2 separate regions of the Homo sapiens genome follow, and region 2 is linked to region 1. Evidence: fine-mapped expression QTL. A gene starts in region 1. The other region holds a variant in brackets. All regions are shown on one strand. Distances are from middle to middle. Region 1 holds the start of ALYREF (Aly/REF export factor). Region 2 overlaps GCGR (glucagon receptor).

Region 1 (9,805 bases):
CCATCCACCTCGGCCTCCCAAAGTGCTGGGATTACAGGCACCTGCCACCATGCCCGGCTAATTTTTTTGGATTTTTAGTAGAGTCGGGGTTTTGCCATGTTGGCCAGGCTGGTCTCGAACACCTGGCCTGAAGCAATCCGCCTGCCTTGGCCTCCCAAAGTGGTGGGATTACAGGTGTGAGCCACTGCGCCTGGCCTATGCCATTCAATTTTGAGAATTTTCAAATAAAAAGTTTAAACTAATCTTTTTTTTGTTTGTTTTTTGAGATGGAGTCTTGCTCTTGGCTCACTGCAACCCCCGTCTCCCAGGCTCAAGAGATTCTCCTGCCTCAGCCTCCCCAGTAGCTGGGATTACAGGCACACGCCACACACCCAGCTAATTTTTGTATTTTTAGTAGAGATGGCGTTTCACTATGTTGGCCAGGATGGTCTCAATCTCCTGACCTTGAGATCCATCCACTTCAGCCTCCCACAGTGCTGGGATGACAAGTGTGGGCCACCACACCCTGCCTTGATCTCTTGACCCTGTGATCTGCCTACCTTGGCCTCCCACAGTGCTAGGATGACAGGTGTGAGCCACCGTGCCGGCCTCCATCTCTTGACCTTGTGATCCGCCCGCCTCGGCCTCCCACAGTGCTGGAATAACAGGCGTGGGCCGCCATGCCGGCCTCCATCTCTTGACCTTGTGATCTGCCCGCCCAGACTCTAATCTCTTTTTAATCCCACGTATTTCACAGCTGAGTTTCATCCTATGGAGTCTGTGACAGGATCTTTATATAAACATGGGTACCAACCACCTGGCTTTTTTTCTATCAACTTTTCTTCATGAGATGAAAATGAAAATGTTGGGGGGGGCACGGTGGTTCGCGCCTGTAATCCCATCCCTTTGGGAGGCTGAGGCGGGTGGATCACCTGAGGTTGACAGTTCGAGACCAGCCTAACATGGAGAAAGCCTGTCTCTACTAAAAAATACAAAATTAGCCGGGTGTAGTGGCACATGCCTGTGATCCCAGGTACTTGGAAGGCTGAGGCAGGAGAATCGCTTGAGCCCAGGAGGCGGAGGTTGCAGTGAGCCGAGATCGCGCCATTGCACTCCAGCCTGGGCAACAAGAGTGAAACTCCATCTCAAAAAAAAAAAAAAAAAAAAAGAAAAGAAAGAAAGAAAAGAAAATAAAAATGTGGGCCAGGCAAAGTGGCTCACACCTGTAATCCCAGCACTTTGGAAGGCTGAAGCGGGCAGGTCACCTGAGGTCAGGAGTTCAAGGCCAGCCTAGCCAACAAGGCAAAACCCCGTCTCTACTAAAAATAAAAAAATTAGCCCAGCATGGTGGCACATGCCTGTAATCCCAGCTGCTTGGAAGGCTGAGGCAGGAGAACCGTTTGAACCCGGGAGGCAGAGGTTGCGGCAAGCCGAGATCGCGCCATTGCACTCCAGCCTGGGAAACAAGATCGAAACTCGGTCTCAAAAAAAAAAAAAAAAAAAGAAAATGAAACTGGGTATTTCGTGCAGGTATTTAACAGGAGCTACTGAGGCTAGTCCAGCAGGCAGCAGACAGCACAGAGGGGACACTCACAGTCGGGGCCGCTCAGACAGCATGGAGGGGACACTCACAGTCAGGGCAGCATCCGTTAAATGCCATCCTGCAGATGCCACAGTTCTCATCGTTGGCCACCCAGAGCCAAGTGGCCACGCCGTTCCAGCACTTAATCTTCACCTTCATGGCAGCAGAGCCTGCGGCGGAGGGAACAGGACGACTGGCTAAATTGAGTCTGCAGAGCTAGAACGTTTAGGCACCAACACAGGTATAAGCCTGCCACAGTGCAGTCCCAGCTACTCAGGGGGCCAAGGCAGGAAGATCATACCGGCCCAGGAGTCCGAACCCAGCCTGGGAAACATCGTGAGCCCTGTTTCTATTTTATTTTACTTTTATTTTTATTAATTTTTTTTTTTTGAGACAGAGTCTCACTCTGTCACCCAGGCTGTAGTGCAGTGGCATGATCTCAGCTCATTTCTTGTGCTTCGGCCTCCTGAGTAGCTGAGGCTATAGGCACGTGACTCCACGCCCGACTAATTTTTGTATTTTTAGTAGTCGAGGTTTCACCATGTAGGCCAGGCTGGTCTTGAACTCCTGGCCTCAAGCGATCTGCCACTGCGGCCTCCCAAAGTGCTGGGATTACAGGCGTGAACCCCTATGCCCTGCTATGAGCCCCGTTTCTATTAAAACAAATAACAAGTAAAGGGCTCTGGGCCCAGAGGGTCAGGGCTGCAGGGGAGCTACGGGAGAACAGCAAGCCCCAGCAGCAATCCGCTTTGTGGCTCACACCTGTGATCCCAGCACTCTGGGAGGCCAACTCGGGAGGATCGCCTGAGCTCAGGAGTTTGAGACCAGCCTGTGTAACACAGTGAGACTGAGTCTCTACCAAAAAAAAAAAAAAAAAAAAAGGAAAAAAAAGAACTATCTGTGAGGTTTCTTTAGCCATCTAGAGAAAGGGCACACTCTTCTCTCCAAGGGAAGGGACTCAGCTCCTTACGGACAAGGAGATCACATTTGGGAGCACAGGACAGTCAGGAGTTTGGTTTTACCTCACGTTGAGGATATCTTCAAAGATCTCAAATGGGCCTGGCCAACATGACGAAACTCCGTCTCTACAAAAAATACAAAAAAATTAGCCGCAGGTGGTGGCTCATGCTTGTAATCCCAGCACTTTGGGAGGCCGAGGAGGGTGGATCACTTGAGGTCAGGAGTTCGAGACCAACCTGGCCAACATGGTGAAACCCCATCTCTACCAAAAAAACAAAAATTAGAGGCCAGGCGTAGTGGCTCACGCCTGTAATCCCAGCACTTTGGGAGGCTGAGGCAGGCAGATCACAAGGTCAGGAGTTCAAGACCAGCCTGGCCAACATACTGAAACCCTGTCTCTACTAAAAATACAAAAAATTAGCCGGGTGTGGTGGTGGGCAACTGTAATCCCAGCTACTCGGGAGGGTGAGGCAAGAGAATCACTTGAACCTGGGAGGCGGAGGTTGCAGCGAGCTGAGATCACGCCAGCTCCCAGCTCTATTCGGGAAGCTGAGCCACAGGAATCACTTGGACCTGGGAGGCAGAGATTGCAGTGAGCCGAGATCGCACCACTGCACTCCAGCCTGGGCAACATAGTGGGACTGTCTCAAAAAAAAAAAAAAAAGCCAGCTGTGGTGGCGTGCACCAGCTGCCTGAGAGGCTGACGTGGGAGGATAGCTCGAGCCCAGGAGTTTGAGGCTGCAGTGAGCCAAGATCACACCACTGCACTCCACTCTGGGTGACGGAGGGAGACCCTGACTCAAAAAACAAAAACAAAAGCAAGTATCTCAAAACAACTTAAAATCCATGAAATGGGCTGGGTGTGGTGGCTCATGCCTGTAATCCCAGCACTTTGGGAGGCCAAGGCGGGCGGATCATCTGAGGTCAGGAGTTCAAGACCACCCTGGCCAACATGGCGAAACCCTGTCTCTATTAAAAATACAAACATTAGCCAGGTATGGTGGCACGTGCCTGTAGTCCCAGCTACTCGGGAGGCTGCCGCTGGAGACTCGCTTGAACCCAGGAGGCAGAGGTTGCAGTGAGCCGAGATCGCCCCACTGCACTCCAGCCTGGGCGACAGAATGAGACTGCCTCAAAAAAAAAAAAAAAAAATCAATGAAATGGCACACTGGTTTTCATTAATAAGTTGCAAAAATAATTTTTTTTTGGAGACAGGGTCTGGCTCTGTCGCCCAGGCTGGAGTGCAGTGGTGCCACCACGGCTCACTGCAGCCTCGACCTCCTGGGCTCAAGCAATCCTCCCACCTCGGCCTCCCAAGTAGCTGGTAGTACAGAAGTGCACCACCATGCCCAGCTCATTTTTTTTTTTAGAGATGGGGGTCTCACGATGTTGCCCCGGCTGGTCTCAAACTCCTGGGCTGAAGCGAACCTCTTGCCTCGGCCTCCCAAAGTGCTGGGATTACAGGCGTGAGGCCCGCGCCCGGCCCGCAAGAAAACTTGTAAAGGATATGACTGGCAAAATGTGACAGTGCAGACTTGGGGGGGCTGCAGGTGGAGACCAAAAAACCAACCCGCAGCTCGTCTGCAGCGGCTGCCGCCCGCCGAAGCCGCGCCCGCCGGACCCCACCGCGAGCCGAGCGCACAGTCCTGGGCGGGAGCGGAAACAAGGACTCCCAGCAGCTCCCAGGCACCCGCCGCGCCCGTAGCGCCCCCAGCGCCCCCAGCCCTGGCCGATCGGGCGGAGCGTGCGGGGAGGGAGGGGCGCGTAGGCTCCGCCTCCAACGGCCGCCGCCCCACCCCCTGCGCCCTCGCACCTTCGCCAACCTAATCACGCACCGCCCTACCCGCCCTTCCGTTGGCAGCGCCGGCGTCCGCGCGGGAAGGTATAAAAACGACCACAGTCGCGGCCCGACTCCCTCAACAGCGCCCGCCGAGTCTCGCACGCCAGTGCGCACGCGCCTCCCCGCCTCACCCCGTCCCGCGCGCGCAGCCGTCCGCCAGCGGCCAATCAGCAGCCGCTCCGAGGCCGTGGCACCGGAAGGCCTCACGCGGCGCCGGAAGTGACGTGCCGGCGTGCTGACGCGCGGGCTCGAGCCGATGCCCGATTCCGCGCCCGCCATGGCCGACAAAATGGACATGTCTCTGGACGACATCATTAAACTGAACCGGAGCCAGCGAGGCGGCCGGGGCGGGGGCCGGGGCCGCGGCCGGGCCGGCTCCCAGGGCGGCCGCGGCGGTGGGGCGCAGGCCGCCGCGCGAGTGAATCGAGGCGGCGGGCCCATCCGGAACCGGCCGGCCATCGCCCGCGGCGCGGCCGGCGGAGGCGGCAGGAACCGACCGGCGCCCTACAGCAGGGTGAGTGCGGAGGCCGGCCGCGCCGGAGAGTGGGAGGGGGCCAGCCGGGGCTGGGGCCGGGGCCGCTCGCGGCGGAGACCCGGGCCGGCGGGTGGATAAGGCTGGTGGAGCGGCCGCCCGGAGGTCCGGAGGGTGCGTGTGGGCGCGGAGGGGGTGGTGGGCGGGAGCGAGGTCGTTCTTTCGGGGTCCGGTCCCGGAGGCTGAGACCCTTCCCAGCTCTTTGTTTGTTCCGGACGTTGGGGCCTCGTGGCAGGAGAGGAGGGGACGCTGGGCGCGGCACAGGCGGCGGGAAGTTAGTCTAAGGGAACTGAAGTTGTGCGGCCGCGGTGGGACCGTGCGGCCTCGGGCTGGGGCAGCTGCAGCGCCGGAGGGAGCGCTGGCGGCCCCGTTTCGGCCGGATCCTCTCAGGCCGGGAAGAGGAAGGGTCCGGAGTAGCCGTGAGGGTCAGGAAAGCCCTGGACTGAGACTCACAGATCTGCTCTTGTTGCGGTTTTTTTTTCAGCCAAAACAACTTCCCGACAAGTGGCAGCACGATCTTTTCGACAGTGGCTTCGGCGGTGGTGCCGGCGTGGAGACAGGTGGGAAACTGCTGGTGTCCAATCTGGATTTTGGAGTCTCAGACGCCGATATTCAGGTAAGAGACGAGGGCTTCTCGGTGAGCCGTTCGCCCTGCACAGGACGGATCGTGATTTTGGGGATGTGGCCCTGAGTCCCCTTCCCGCCTTAGCGAAGGGAGCCCTCCCAGCTCTGAAGGGCTGCAGGACAGACCCAGTGCTAGTAAAGCCGGGGTCAGTGCGCAGGCAGGTGCGAGCCTAGCTGAGCCTGAGGAACTGCTGCTGTTAGTCTGAAGATGGGTTCTGTGAGTGAAAATCCCCTGCCAGGGCTTCCAGTTTCTAACAGGGACAAAGACTGACCAAATGTGAGTGGTTTTTGGCTGTTAGACCCAGCCCAGTTGCTTTTTAAATTTTGTGCCTGTCTTAGTGGGTTAATGTGAGAAAAAGAATCTTCTTTATGTATCTTGTGAAGCACAGGGAGTCTGTTTTTCTGGCTCTGTTTGCCTTGAGTACTGTCTTATAAAGACCTTGTACGCTGTGGTTTTATCACTCCCCACCGCCGTGTCCCGTCAGTGACATGACTCTCAAATCCATCTTTGGTTGAAGCTTTTCTTTTTTAAAAAAAGAAAAATTGAATCCCAATGGCATTTCAACTTGTTTTCTGGTTAAGAAATGACTTTTTGGGAATCAGTTTTGGAGATGGCTGGGCAGGGTTCAGTTGCCCACAGCCCAGCCATTTGCCTTGGGAGGACAGAGTAGGGCCAGTGAGCACTCACAGTGTCTCAACACTTTTTTTAAGGTGGTTTCTAGCATCCACTGGAAACCGCTTTTGGTGAACTCCAGTTCCCGCTGTGTGCCTGCGGCCGGAGTATCCCCACACTCTGGGTTCCCTCTCCAACTCCCAGCCTGCCTGAGGTCAGGGCAGTTTCCATGACAGCGCTTGACTTCAGACTTTGCCGCAGGCTTGAGTAGGAGGAGAGGGAAAGGTGAGCCAGAATCTGCCTTTGGGGGAGGGGCTGGGGTCAGGGCTCCCGAATCTACAGGCCCTTCAAGCTGGTCTGATATCGGACTGCTTCCCTTGCTCTTGATTTTGGCCTTTACCGTTTCTTGGAACAGCCCTTGGGTGTGTTGTACATTTTCCTTTGTTGAAGAGGATAGTGGCTTAATTTTGTGCCCGTTGCTAGTGGGCTTTGCAGCTTCCTCTACCTGCATCGTGGTACACGTGTCAGGTCCCCACAATGGCAGGAGCCCTCAGACCCAGGTGCTCTTGGAAGTTGCTGTCCCTCCTGCCCCGCCCTTCCCTCATTTCCCGTTAACCACTGTCCTGCCTCCCAGAGAACCACCCCCAAAGCAACTCACGCTTCCAGGGCCTGTCCCTGGGCCACCAGAAGGAACGCAGTTTTGTTGCTTTTCTGACAACTGCTCTCTGCAACTCCCAGGAACTCTTTGCTGAATTTGGAACGCTGAAGAAGGCGGCTGTGCACTATGATCGCTCTGGTCGCAGCTTAGGAACAGCAGACGTGCACTTTGAGCGGAAGGCAGATGCCCTGAAGGCCATGAAGCAGTACAACGGCGTCCCTCTGGATGGTGAGTCTGGGGGTGGACCCACGCTGACTGTGGGGCTTGTGGAGTTTGGGGCTGGCACCTGTCCAGGTAGGAATATGGGGTACCCCTGTGGCTGAGGACACTTTGCATTTGCCCCTTTGTCTCTCTCTTCCATCTGCCACCTCTCATGCTGCCCCACACATCTGGACCAACCTCTTGTGAACCCCCATCCAGCAAGCTACATCCCTCCCCTCCTTCAGCTCCTTCCGGAAGATTCACTTCTGTGAAGCCTTCTCAGAACCGCCATAGTACACCTCTGAGTGCGGGGCTGTAGTCGTAAAGACAAAGGTACCGGTTCTTCTTCGTCAGGTCACCCACACCTCTCCACCCACGAGCACCCCGATACCTCAGCGAGCAGCCCACCTAGTCTGGACTGAGAAGGAGTGAGGAGGTGTTGGTGGGGTTGCTTCCTTGCCATTTTGTTCTCCCACCAGTATCTCCAGGCCATTTCCCTTGTCGGGGGCATTTGAGACGCACAGAGGCCCTTTCCAGTGTTTGCATGGAGACCAGGGTGTGGCGCCAGCTGGGTGGGTTTCAGAGCCTCTCAATAGAACGTGCCTTCTCGTATTCTTTGCCGCAGGCCGCCCCATGAACATTCAGCTTGTCACGTCACAGATTGACGCACAGCGGAGGCCTGCACAGAGGTGACTTCCGGGGCCTCTGGGGAAGGGGATTGGCCGAGGGTGAGGCTGCGTCGCTCTTAGGGTCCTTCCGGGTGTGTGAACGGTTTCGTCTTCCTTGCTAGCGTAAACAGAGGTGGCATGACTAGAAACCGTGGCGCTGGAGGTTTTGGTGGTGGTGGAGGCACCCGGAGAGGCACCCGCGGAGGCGCCCGTGGAAGAGGCAGAGGTGCCGGCAGGAATTCAAAGCAGCAGCTTTCGGCAGAGGAGCTGGATGCCCAGCTGGACGCCTATAATGCGAGAGTGAGTCCCGGGGGAGCCAGCTGGGGGCCTGGTCAAAGCCGCAGTGGGGAGCAGGCCGCCTGTGAATGCAAGCCTCTTTCTCCTCTGTGTTTCAGATGGACACCAGTTAAACAGACCAGCAAATCCGCGTGCGGAACAGGACCCAGGCGTCTCCTCTTGCTCCCTGGTTGGGGGGCGGTGGCTGGGGCTGTGCGGCCAATGATGGATTTGTTTCTTTTATGTTTTAAAATAGGATTTAAAAACTCATGTAAAGGTTTTTTTTTTTTCTTTTTTTTTTTTTTTAATTCTGAAACAGACCTGTTTTGTACCGAGTTATTTTTGGGATAAATTTTACTGGTTGCTGTTGTGGAGAAGGTGGCGTTTCCACCTTTTCCATAATAAAATAGAAATGTGTGTAGAACTGGAACTGTTTGATTCGTCCCACTGTTGGAGTCCAGGCCTGGGCCAGGATTTTGGTGTCTGTCCAGCTGGGAGGGGGTGGGAGAACCTGAGTTGGGGATGGAGGGAGCAGCCCCATCTGGTGTTGGACACCTGAAGTTGGCATGGGTTGTGGGGGTGGCGGGGGGTCCCCGCTCCTGGAGGGCCGAAGCTGCCTGTCTTCTTTCTTATCTTCTTTCCTGCCTCACACCTAACACCTTCCTCTCTAACTCACCAGGTGGGAGGACACCTTTGCCCGGGAGCCACCTGTTGACCCTTGTGCCTGTGCCTCCAGGTGAGGGGAGGTTGGGGTGGGATGGCTGCCCTGTGTGCCGTCCACAGGCTTCCCACAGCCAGAACATCTCTGGGCTGTTCCTTTCCTTCTTGTACTCTGGTTTTCAGAGAAACGTGGATTCAGCAGTTTTGACTTTGTAGTGTAATTCCTTTTTCTGTTTGTTTTTTTGTTGTTGTTTTTAACCTTGCCACGGAGCAAGGCATGAGGATCCTCTCTTAGTTGTATATTTGATGAAGTGGCTGGTGGAAGCTGTGATAATCCGTCCATTTAAGAGTGGGGCGGCTGGGCGCGGTGGCTCACGCCTGTAATCCCAGCACTTTGGGAGGCTGGGGCAGGCAGATCACCTGAGGTCAGGAGTTCAAGACCAGCCTGGCCAACATGGCGAAACCCCGTCTCTACTAAAAATACAAAATTAGCTGGGTGTGGTGGTGCATGCCTGTAATCCCAGCTACTTGGGAGGCTGAGGCTGGAGAATCGCCTGAACCAGGGAGGTGGAGGTTGCAGTGAGCCGAGATTGTGCCATTGCACTCCAGTCTGGACAACAAGAGTGAACTCCGTCTCAAAAAGGAGTAGGGCAACGCCTGATACCTGTAATCCCAGCACTTTGGGAGGTCAGGGCAGAAGGATCTCTTGAGCCCAGAAGTTCGAGACCAGCCTAGGCAACATGGCAAAACCCTATCTCTACTAAAAATACAAAAGTTAGCTGAGTGTGGTGGCGTGCTCCTGTGGTCTCAGCTATTCTAAAGGCTGAGGTGGGAGGATCGCTTGAGCCCTGGAGGTTGAGGCTGCTGTGAGCCATTATCATGCCACTGCACTCCAAGCTGGGCAGTGGAGAGAGAGCCTTGTGCCCCCTGATGCTGGGTTGGTGACAGCACTTTGAGAATGAGATGGGAAGGGGGACAAGGGAGCTCCAGAGTTCTGCCTGACCCCACTGTCCCACAGCTGGGATGTAAGGAAGCCCAGGGCAGTGGGCAGTGGTAGTGGAGAGACAGACAGGAATGCATGCCGTGTCTGCAGAAACCTTTCCCTGCACCAGCGGCTCCTGCGGGCACACATCCCAGGCTAAGCTTGCTTCCACGCTGGGATGGGCCTGGCTGAGTCATGGGCAAGGGAGTGTGACTAAGGGTGGTTCTTTC
Region 2 (9,805 bases), 76 kb after region 1:
TGGTGGCAGGCACCTATAATCCCAGCTACTCGGGAAGCTGAGGCAGGAGAATCACTTGAACCCGGGAGGCGGAGGTTGCAGTGAGCTGAGATTGCGCCACTGCACTCCGTCCTGGGCAACAGAGCAAGACTCCGTCTCAAAAAAAAAAAAAAAAAAAAGAAAAAGAAAAAAATAAATAAAAGAATGGCTACTCTACAGGCAAAGCAGTAGTTTATCCCTCTGTACAGAGTGTGGGCTGTGGTGATCCAAAGGCCTCTCCCCTGCATGGGTGCTGGGACCCCTGTGTAGCACACAGGAGGTGCCGAGGGAGCTCCTTGTGTTAAGAGATGGACCTGATTTGGGCTCACCTGGGTCATCTTACACTGGGCCCTGGAATCCGGGCCTTGCCTACCTACAGCCGGGGGGTGGAGCTCCCCCAGGTATGGCCCCAGCACCTGGGCCTGCCACCAGAAACCTTCAATTTGGAGATCTTTCTGCCAAGAACCCTTCAGAGGAGGGGGCCGGCCTGGCCAGGCACATGCTGGGCAGGAGGGTAGGAGTCTGTGGGGAGCGCTGAGCCCACGGTGTTGCTGGAGGCCCCACCCCTTCACCCGATGCACCGCGTGGGGGATGGGGATTGGGGTGAGGAGGGGGAGGGGATTGGGGTGAGGAGGGGGAGGGGACGCGGGAGAGGGGGCCTAACCTACCTGAGGGCTGGGGAGGTGCACCCACCGGGACCGGACCTCTGACCCTGAAGCAAACTTGCCCTCCCATCCCCTCTTCGGTGGACCACCCAGTGAGGTCAGCTCTGCAGGGGCCACAGGGTGGTCTTACCCCAGCCGTTCGCCTAATGGTGTGAGAACTCACTGTAGTCACAAAGCGGGGTCTCTACTTTCAGCTTGAGGAGCACATAAAGGGCTGCTAGAGTGGGCACCTCTCCCCTGGGCTGCGGGAGCTGACCGTGGGGCCCGATCCCAGAGGGTTGCGGTCCTCCCACCCCAGCCTGTCCTTCAGCCCTGCTGCCACTGCCTTGTCCATGCAGGGCACCAGGGCCCTCCGACCCTCACCCAATCCTGGAGGCTGCTGGACTAAGCAGCTGGAGACACTCCCCTTTCTGCAGTGAGGGCGACTTGGGGAAATGAGGCAACTGCAACTGTTGCGTGTTGTACCGTTGGTGTGCATACACACATCACAATCTGCTGTGTACTGTTGGTGTGCACACACATCACTATCTGCTGTGTAGTGTTGGTGTGCACGCGCATGTCACTATCTGCTGTGTACTGTTGGTGTGCACACACATGTCACTACCTGCTGTGTAGTGTTGGCGTGCACGCGCATGTCACTATCTGCTGTGTAGTGTTGGTGTGCACACACATCACTATCTGCTGTGTAGTGTTGGCGTGCACACATATGTCACTATCTGCTGTGTACTGTTGGCGTGCACACACAAGTCACTATCTGCCGTGTAGTGTTGGCGTGCACACACAAGTCACTATCTGCCGTGTAGTGTTGGCGTGCACACACAAGTCACTATCTGCCGTGTAGTGTTGGCGTGCACACACAAGTCACTATCTGCCGTGTAGTGTTGGCGTGCACACACAAGTCACTATCTGCCGTGTAGTGTTGGCGTGCACACACAAGTCACTATCTGCCGTGTAGTGTTGGCGTGCACACACAAGTCACTATCTGCCGTGTAGTGTTGGCGTGCACACACAAGTCACTATCTGCCGTGTAGTGTTGGCGTGCACACACAAGTCACTATCTGCCGTGTAGTGTTGGCGTGCACACACAAGTCACTATCTGCCGTGTAGTGTTGGCGTGCACACACAAGTCACTATGCTGTGTAGTGGCGTGCACACACAAGTCACTATCTGCTGTGTAGTGTTGGCGTGCACGCACATGTCACTATCTGCTGTGTAGTGTTGGCGTGCACGCACAAGTCACTATCTGCTGTGTAGTGTTGGCGTGCACGCATATGTCACTATCTGCTGGGTACTGTTGGTGTGCACGCACGTGTCACTATCTGCTGTGTAGTGTTGGCGCGCACGCACAAGTCACTATCTGCTGTGTAGTGTTGGCGTGCACACATATGTCACTATCTGCTGTGTACTGTTGGTGTGCACGCACACATGTCACTCTGGCAACTCCATGGGGCAGGTTTTAGTATCCCAATTTACAAGTGAGGAAACAGTGACCTCTTTCAGGGGGGTTAAGCTCTTATGAAAATTGTAATTAATACTTATTGAGCATGAACAATTTCCTAATAGCCGATATACCCAGCTCCCATTTCCCAAATGACTAAATTAATAGGTTCCTGGTGGGTTGCTGGCAGCATGGGAAGGCGGCGCCCATGTGTCCCGAGCCTCCATCCGTAACATGCCCCTCTTTTTCCACCATTCGTGTAAGGACCCCTGGCGTTTGACAGTCGTGTACCCCACATTCTGCCTTTGGCCAGCTGCATCTCTGTGGTGTCAACAGACCCCTGTTTCCCCTGTACTTCTGTAAAATGAGGTGTGGTGCAGAGGCCTCATCGGATTCATAGGAGACTTCGGGTGTCAAAGCATCTGGCTGCTGTGTGGGAATGGGTTGCAGGGTCCGGGGTAGCAGCAGGGGTCCTGTTAGGAGGCTTCTGCAGTGGACAGTGGGAGGAAGAAGCTGGGGACAGGGTGAGCAGCTCGGTGTGGACATCCAGCTGTACATGCCGAGCTGATAGCTGGGTCTAAAGCGTGGATTCAGCAGAGCCCCAGGTCGGGGGAGATAGATGAAGAGTTAGCTGAGCACTGCTGGTTTTTAAAGATTGATCAAGAAGAAATGAGGGTGGTGCCTGGTTCCTGGACACAACAGGGAGAGAAAGAAGAAAAAGGAACAGTGGAGGGCAGGGTCAGAGAAAGAGCAGGCAGGGGAGGACCCGGGGCTGAGTGAGTGCAGGGGGAGGACCCGGGGCTGAGTGAGTGCAGGGGAGGACCCGGGGCTGAGTGAGTGCAGGGGGAGGACCCCGGGCTGAGTGAGTGCAGGGTGTCTGGGGATAGGCTGAGCCAGCTCACGTAGTGGACCTGCAGCCCTAGCCATCTCCCACCCACCTTGCCTAGAGATGACCACTTTGTTTTTTTGTTTTGTTTTGTTTTGTTTGAGGCGGAGTCTCACTCTGTTGCCCAAGCTGGAGTGCAGTGGCGCGATCTCGGCTCACTGCAAGCTGCGCCTCCTGGGTTCACGCCATTCTCCTGCCTCAGCCTCCCGAGTAGCTGGGACTACAGGCGCCCACCACCACGCCTGGCTAATTTTTAGTAGAGATGGGGTTTCTCCTTGTTAGCCAGGATGGTCTCAAACTCCTGGCCTTGTGATCCGCCCGCCTCAGCCTCCCA[A/G]AGTGCTGGGATCACAGGCGTGAGCCACCGCGCCCGGCCCCGAGGTGACCACTTTGAACTCTTCACCTCATTCTTTGCATTTTTAAATTTTGCTCTGTATTTTTATTTCTAACGTGAATTATTCTTGATTTTTCCCATTTTGTTCTCTCCCCTACCCCCAGTACATACGTGATATTCCCGTCCACCACCCTCCCTAGATCTTTTTTCTCCCATGATTCTGGTTGCATCAGTGTTGGTGTTTACATTATGATGTCTGTGTTTGTATTCAGAACTGAGTCATGGTAAATTCTGCTTGTTTTGTTCTTTTCTGCCCAAATTTTTCTTTTCTTTGGAATTATTAATTGCCTTCTTTTTTCATTTGCTTGGTTTTTTCTTTCTTTTTTTTTTTTTTTGAGACGGAGTCTTGCTCTGTCACCCAGGGTGGAGTGCAATGGCACCATCTTGGCTCACAGCAGCCTCCGCCTCCCAGGTTCAAGCGATTCTCCTGCCTCAGGCTCCCAAGTAGCTGGGACTACAGGCGCCCGCCACCACGCCCGGCTAATTTTTGTATTTTTAGTAGAGACGAGGTTTCACCATGTTGGCCAGGCTGGTCTCGAACTCCTGACCTCAGGTGATTCGCCCGCCTTGGCCCCCCAAAGTGCTGGGATTACAGGCATGAGCCACTGCACCCAGCCTCATTTGTTTAGTTTTCTATGTACTAGTCACTAATCAAGTCCTGAACTCTCTCCTCTAAATATTAGTGCACTCAATCCCTTTCATCCCCTTGAGGGTGTCTCTGCTGAGCCTTCTGTCTGGCTCAAGGTCCCCTATTCCTGTGACGCACTTCTGACTCTCCTAGATTTGGTCCTTCATGTAGTTCATGTCTTCCTTTTTCCTGGTCTCCACTCTCATTTTAGTAGTATTTTTGTGTCCACAGACACCAGATTCCAGGGTATCAAAGTCATCTTCCTCCCAGCCATGCACACACAGCACCCAACTCTTGCAGATACCCCTTTGGGATGCCGGGCATCACATACCTGCCTGTAATCCCAGCTACTAGGGAGGCTAAGGCAGGAGAATCGCTTGAACCTGGGAGGCGGAGGTTGCGGTGAGCTGAGATCGCGCCATTGAGCTCCAGCCTGGGCAACGAGAGTGAAACTCCGTCTCAAAAAAAAAAAAAAAAAAATTAGCCAGGTGTCGTGGCACACGCCTATAATCCCAGCTACTCAGGAGGCTGAGGCAGAGAATCACATGAACCTGGGAGGTGGAGTTTGCAGTGAGCCAAGATCATGCCACTGCACTCCAACTTGGGCAACAGAGTGAGACTCTATCTCCAAAAAAGAAAAAAAACAGTCCCTCCACCTACCTGCCTGCAGGACTGCCTGGTTAGGGCCAGTGTTTATTGCCTGGGTGAGTCCACCCCCTGCCAGTCCCCAACTCCACCCAACTCCACCAGCCTGCTCCAGTTCCCTTAGGGATGAGGGCGGGACAGAGGTGAAAGAGGACAAGGGCAGAGGGACTCGGGAATGGGGAGGGCTGTCAGGAGGTCCCAGGTGAGGGGCAGTTTCCCCAGGGCAGTCACCAGCCCTGAGCTCAGCTGGCATGAAGGAGAATGTCCACCTCCGTGTGCTGACTCGGAGCAGCCTCGTGCCCACACAGGCACCCGGGCATCCAGGGCTCAGAGGAGAGCCAGGACCTGAGGCCGGAGGGGCGTAGAGCTGGCCTGAAGCCTTAAGGTCTGAGATCACAGGCCTCCAGCAGGTGCAGCTCAGGGGACCGTCTCCTGGCCTTGCCGTCCCAATCACAGCAACCCCAGGGCCCCAGAAGGGTCCAGCCTTGCCTAATCAGCTCACTTCCCTCCCTGCTGCATGCAGGCCCTGTGGTGGGTGGCAGGGTGAGGGCCCCCCCAGGAGGGCCCCAGTGCCTGGCGGGTGAGTAATTCTATTTACCTTTCCTCAGAGGCCTCCTGTCCCCTCATTTGCCCCAATTAGTCCGGCTCTGCCTGAGCGGCTCCAGCCCACGTGGCCCAGGCAGGGGCTGTGAGCACCCCTTCCCCCAGGGCCCAGCAGCACTTCCCAGCAGCTCCTCAGAGCAGGGGCACCTGACTGGCTCCTTCCCCAGCCCATGCACACACCTCAGTAGGTCTCACAGTGCCTGCTGCAGGGACCCCCCGGGGGGCTGACCACAGGCCCCTCACAGCTTCTACCCTGAATTTGTCTCCACCCCCGCTGTGTGGTCCCTGGGCCCTTAGACTCAGGTTGGGCCCCACACAATGGGAGACCCCACCCTGAAGCACCTCCTGTGTCCAGCACGCAGGAGGCAGCTCTTTCCTGGTGCTCCCTGGCTGGCAAGCAGGGCGCCCACCCACCACGAGGTGGCAAGAGGACTGGCGTAGGCTGGACCTCTCTGTGTGGCACGAGGACTGGCGTAGGCCGGACCTCTCTGTGTGGCACGAGGACTGGCGTAGGCCGGACCTCTCTGTGTGGCACGAGGACTGGCGTAGGCCGGACCTCTCTGTGTGGCACGAGGACTGGCGTAGGCCGGACCTCTCTGTGTGGCACGAGGACTGGCGTAGGCCGGACCTCTCTGTGTGGCACGAGGACTGGCGTAGGCCGGACCTCTCTGTGTGGCACGAGGACTGGCGTGTGTGTGGCGCACCCCGGGTCCTGTGCAGAAGTTGGGCAACCTGCCCTCCTCCGTCGCCTGGACCCGCGGCAATGTTCAGGCCCATTTCTTCCCGCTTCAATCTGCTACGTGGCCTGTAAATTGCCCGAGGGGGCTGGAGCTGAGATGAAACGGAGGCCAGGAGGCTCAGAGGAAGGGCGGGCCGATGAGCCAGGTGCCAGTGTCCTCACGGCCTCCAGGGAGAAGACGCCCTCGGGTGAATCCAGTGCTGATGGGGTCGGTCAGGGGACTGTGATGCCTCATGCCGCCTTAGCCACTGTGCCCCTCACGTCTCTGCTGGTGAATGGTGACCCTCTGGTGGCCAAAGCGTCCAGGGGGACTGCCCGCCAGAACCAGGATGGGAAGGTGGCCAGGACCTGCTCAGATGGGCACAGGCTGGCTGCCTTCGGGATCCTCCGGGGTTCCAGTGCCAACTCTGAGTGAACTGGGACAGCAGGGGGACCCTTCAACAGCCCGCACTGGCGCTGACCACCCACCGCTGTTCCATCCCCCACTGCTTCGGCCCCAGCATTTCCAGCCCTGCTTTCCAGGACATGCACGGTGACCACTTGAGCTCTTTATTGTTGGAGGACATTTCCATGCACATGGGACGTGCCGACATACGTGGGGACACTGGCACGCAGTTCACGGCACAGCCCCCACTCCCGCCCTGGACTCCTCTGCTCACCTCTGCACCAGGGACAAGGCAGGTGCAGGGAGAGGAGGCCCAATCTCGCAGACAGCCACACTGGGGGTGGGGGGTAGGTGGGGGCTGCTGTTGGCTCCCCCGCCCCCAGCCTCAGCTGGGCGTCCAGTTCTGGGTTGTCCAGCGACGCCCTCTGGGTGCCAGAGTCCAGCCCTAGCTGGGGTCCCAGCAGGGTTCAGAAGGGGCTCTCAGCCAATCTAGGGAGGCCACCAGCCAAGGGGGTCTCCGCAGATGAATCCTGGCTGCCACCACCCCTCCCAAACTGCAGCTCCTTGCTGGGAGGGCCGTGGCCGGGCGAAGATGAGGCCCTGTGGTTGCTGGTGTTCCGCTCCTCCCATAGCACTTTGCCCAGGCGCCAGCGGTGCCAACGCCGCCGCAGCTCCGACTGCACCTGGGGAGGGGGACGGGGCAGGCCAGTCCTAGGGCCTGCCTGTCCTCTCCACCCCACCGGGACCTGCTGTGGGCCTCATCGGAGATGCCCAGTCTCCGCTCTGAGGGGTGCAGAGCGACACAAGCTCCCTGCTGGGCACAGCTATGCCACCCAGCATCGCCACGGAAAGCAGTCTGCAGACACCTGGGGACCCCCACGGTGGACACCGTAGCGATGGGGCTGAGGCCAACCTGTCCTGGGGGCCTGACACCCAGCGCCATGGCAACTGCACCCAATAAGAGCAGGGGGAGGGAAAGGCTTGGGCCCCACGTGTTCCAACCCCCGGGCAGGGGTGGGGCTGGCATCCCTGTGCCTCTCTCTGCCCCTGACCCCGACGGCCAGTGCTGATGGTCTCAGATGCCCCCACTCCCACCTACCTCCTTGTTGAGGAAGCAGTAGAGGACAGCCACCAGCAGGCCCTGGAGAGACAGGGTGGTCAGGGGTGGCACACTGCGCCCCGGGCGGGGGAGCCGGCGGGCGGGCGGGCACCTGGAAGGAGCTGAGGAAGAGGTCGAAGAAGAGCTTGGCGGAGCGCAGGGTGCCCTGGGCGTGCTCGTCCGTCACGAAGGCGAAGACCACTTCGTGGACGCCCAGCAGAGGGATGAGGGTCAGCGTGGACTTGGCCAGCCTGCAGAGGCAGCGCCTGAGTCACCCACCGCCCCCACCCTCGGCCCGCACCATCCACGTGGAGCTTGGAGTCCCCACCCCCAGCTGCCCTCTGGCCCTGAGGGTCTCCAGGTCTCGAGACGCCAGCTGCCGCGGCACCCACCGGAACTTGTAGTCTGTGTGGTGCATCTGCCGTGCCCGCAGCTTGGCCACGAGCAGCTGAACGATGCGGACGAAGATGAAGAAGTTGATCTGTGTGAGAAGGGTGCGAGTCAGGGGCATCCCGAGCCCCAGGGAACAGCTCTGTGCCCTTGGAAGGCCCCACCTGACCCTCCTGCAGGTGGGCCTGGCAGCAAGATAGGCCCTGGGCCACATAGCCCTGGGGCTGGTGGGCACACAGCCAGGGAGGAACAGCCTGGCTCAGTGTCCAGGGTGCTGGCCAGTGTCCTGGTGTCCTGTCTGGGTGCCGGCTCCCTCCCAGCGCTCTCAGACAGGATGCTGCTGTCTCCTGGGGCAGCCTCAGGACGCCAAGGGAGGAGGGGCCTGGGGTGCGCTCCTGGCTCTTCATTTCCTCACCAGGATGGCCAGGAAGACGGGGAACCGCAGGATCCACCAGAAGCCCATGTTGTCATTGCTGGTCCAGCACCTGCGAGGCCAGGCCACTCACATACTGGGGCACAGCCCCCAGCCCCTCCGCCCCTCAGCACCCCCGTCCCGATTTTGCCAGGATCTAATTCGGGTCTCAGAAAAGGAAGGGAGAAGGTCACAAATGACCCCCTCCCCAGGCACCAGGCTCATCCCCGGCCCCTCCCTGCCTCAGGCCAGAGCGCCGCACCCCAGCCCCCCGGTCCCTCCCCAGGCTGTCCAGCCGCTCATACTCACTGGACGTTCTCGAACAGACACTTGACCACTGCCCAGGGGACGACGAACAGCATGGGGGCACCTGTGGGGGGCAGCAGCTGTGGTCCCAAAGGCTTGGTCAGCCTGCCTTAACCCCCTCTCATGCCAGCCCACTCACCCCAGCCGATGCCCAGGTAGAGGCTGAAGAAGCTCCTCTCGGGGAGGGTGGCCAGGCCCAGCAGGTTGTGCAGGTACAGGCCCTCCACCAGCAGCCAGCAGTAGTTGGCCACGATGCCATATTGCATGAACACCGCGGCCACACGGCAGCCAGCCACCGCCTGGTACAGGTGCAGTGTGAGCGCGGCTACGTGGCCACCTGCCTGGCTGCCCACCCACCCACCTGCCTGGGGCCGCCGAGGGGGGCTCACTCCATCACTGAGCCAGGTGCTGACACTGAGGTCGTCGCCAATTTTCTGGCTGTAGCGGGTCCTGAGCAGCCCATCAATGACCAGCACGGAGCTGGCTTTCAGCACGAAGGACGCAAACAGATTCGCGTGGATGGCATTGCGGGTGCAGTGCAGCTTGCTGTGGGCACAGCCAGTCAGCGCCCGTCCTCCTCCCTGTCCTCTGCGGCCGCCCCGGGCGCTGGCGGAATCCTACCTGAGGCCCCCCAGGATGGCCAAGGCGAGGAGCAGGGCCCCCAGGGACAGGCTGTAGCCCACTGTGTACATCACCTGGAAGCTGCTGTACATCTTGGCCACCTCCTTCTGCGAGTTACAGTGGCCTGTGAGGGCCAGGCAGGGGCCCCCATGCCCGTTCCCATCCAGCCCCACCGCGCCTGCCTGCCGCCCACTGACCTGGACCTCAATCTCCTCGCCATCCATCTGGCACTGGGAGGCATCACGCCAAGGCTGCCCCCGGGGTCCACGCACCCACTGACCGTCGGGCCCGCATCTCTTGAACACGAAGCGGTGTTGCACTGGGGGTGTGGGGGGAGGCTGGGGTCAGCCCCACCCTGGGCCCGCCCCCCCCACAGTTCCTCCCCTCTATGGGTACCTTTGTGGTGCCAAGGCAGGTACCAGGGGCAGGAGATGTTGGCCGTGGTATTGGCGGGGGTGTCCGGCCAGCAGGAATACTTGTCGAAGGTTCTGTTGCACACCAGCTCTGCAGGGTAGGGTAGGGCAGGGCAGAGCAGGGCAGGGCAGGGTGGGAGAAGGGGCTCCCTCAGCAGGCCTCTCT

What was found. PIP is the estimated chance that this variant, and not a neighbour inherited with it, causes the effect.
Region 2: its variant is fine-mapped to the expression of ALYREF in lung (TOPMed, PIP 0.91).

Annotation. Positions count from the first base shown.
Region 1 is chr17:81,886,393-81,896,197 of GRCh38, reverse strand. ALYREF (Aly/REF export factor) reads left to right here and starts at 4,612. Exons shown (of 6, transcript NM_005782.4): 1 at 4,612-4,875; 2 at 5,378-5,509; 3 at 6,869-7,016; 4 at 7,615-7,678; 5 at 7,780-7,957; 6 at 8,053-8,363. The coding sequence starts at 4,618. The coding sequence ends at 8,067. It overlaps ANAPC11 (anaphase promoting complex subunit 11), which reads right to left and starts at 4,475. Exons shown (of 4, transcript NM_001002248.3): 1 at 4,357-4,475; 2 at 2,584-2,646; 3 at 1,612-1,731. The coding sequence starts at 1,720. RefSeq lists silencers at 2,960-3,175, 4,056-4,595, 6,626-6,790 and an enhancer at 6,594-7,793.
Region 2 is chr17:81,810,750-81,820,554 of GRCh38, reverse strand. It overlaps GCGR (glucagon receptor), which reads right to left. Exons shown (of 14, transcript NM_000160.5): 4 at 9,623-9,730; 5 at 9,424-9,545; 6 at 9,227-9,333; 7 at 8,995-9,151; 8 at 8,745-8,904; 9 at 8,609-8,669; 10 at 8,303-8,372; 11 at 7,890-7,978; 12 at 7,610-7,748; 13 at 7,498-7,539; 14 at 6,547-7,081. The coding sequence ends at 6,866. Among named protein-coding and RNA genes, the nearest start is that of GCGR, 12 kb to the right of the region's middle. The variant A/G (reference allele first, on the strand shown) is at 3,342.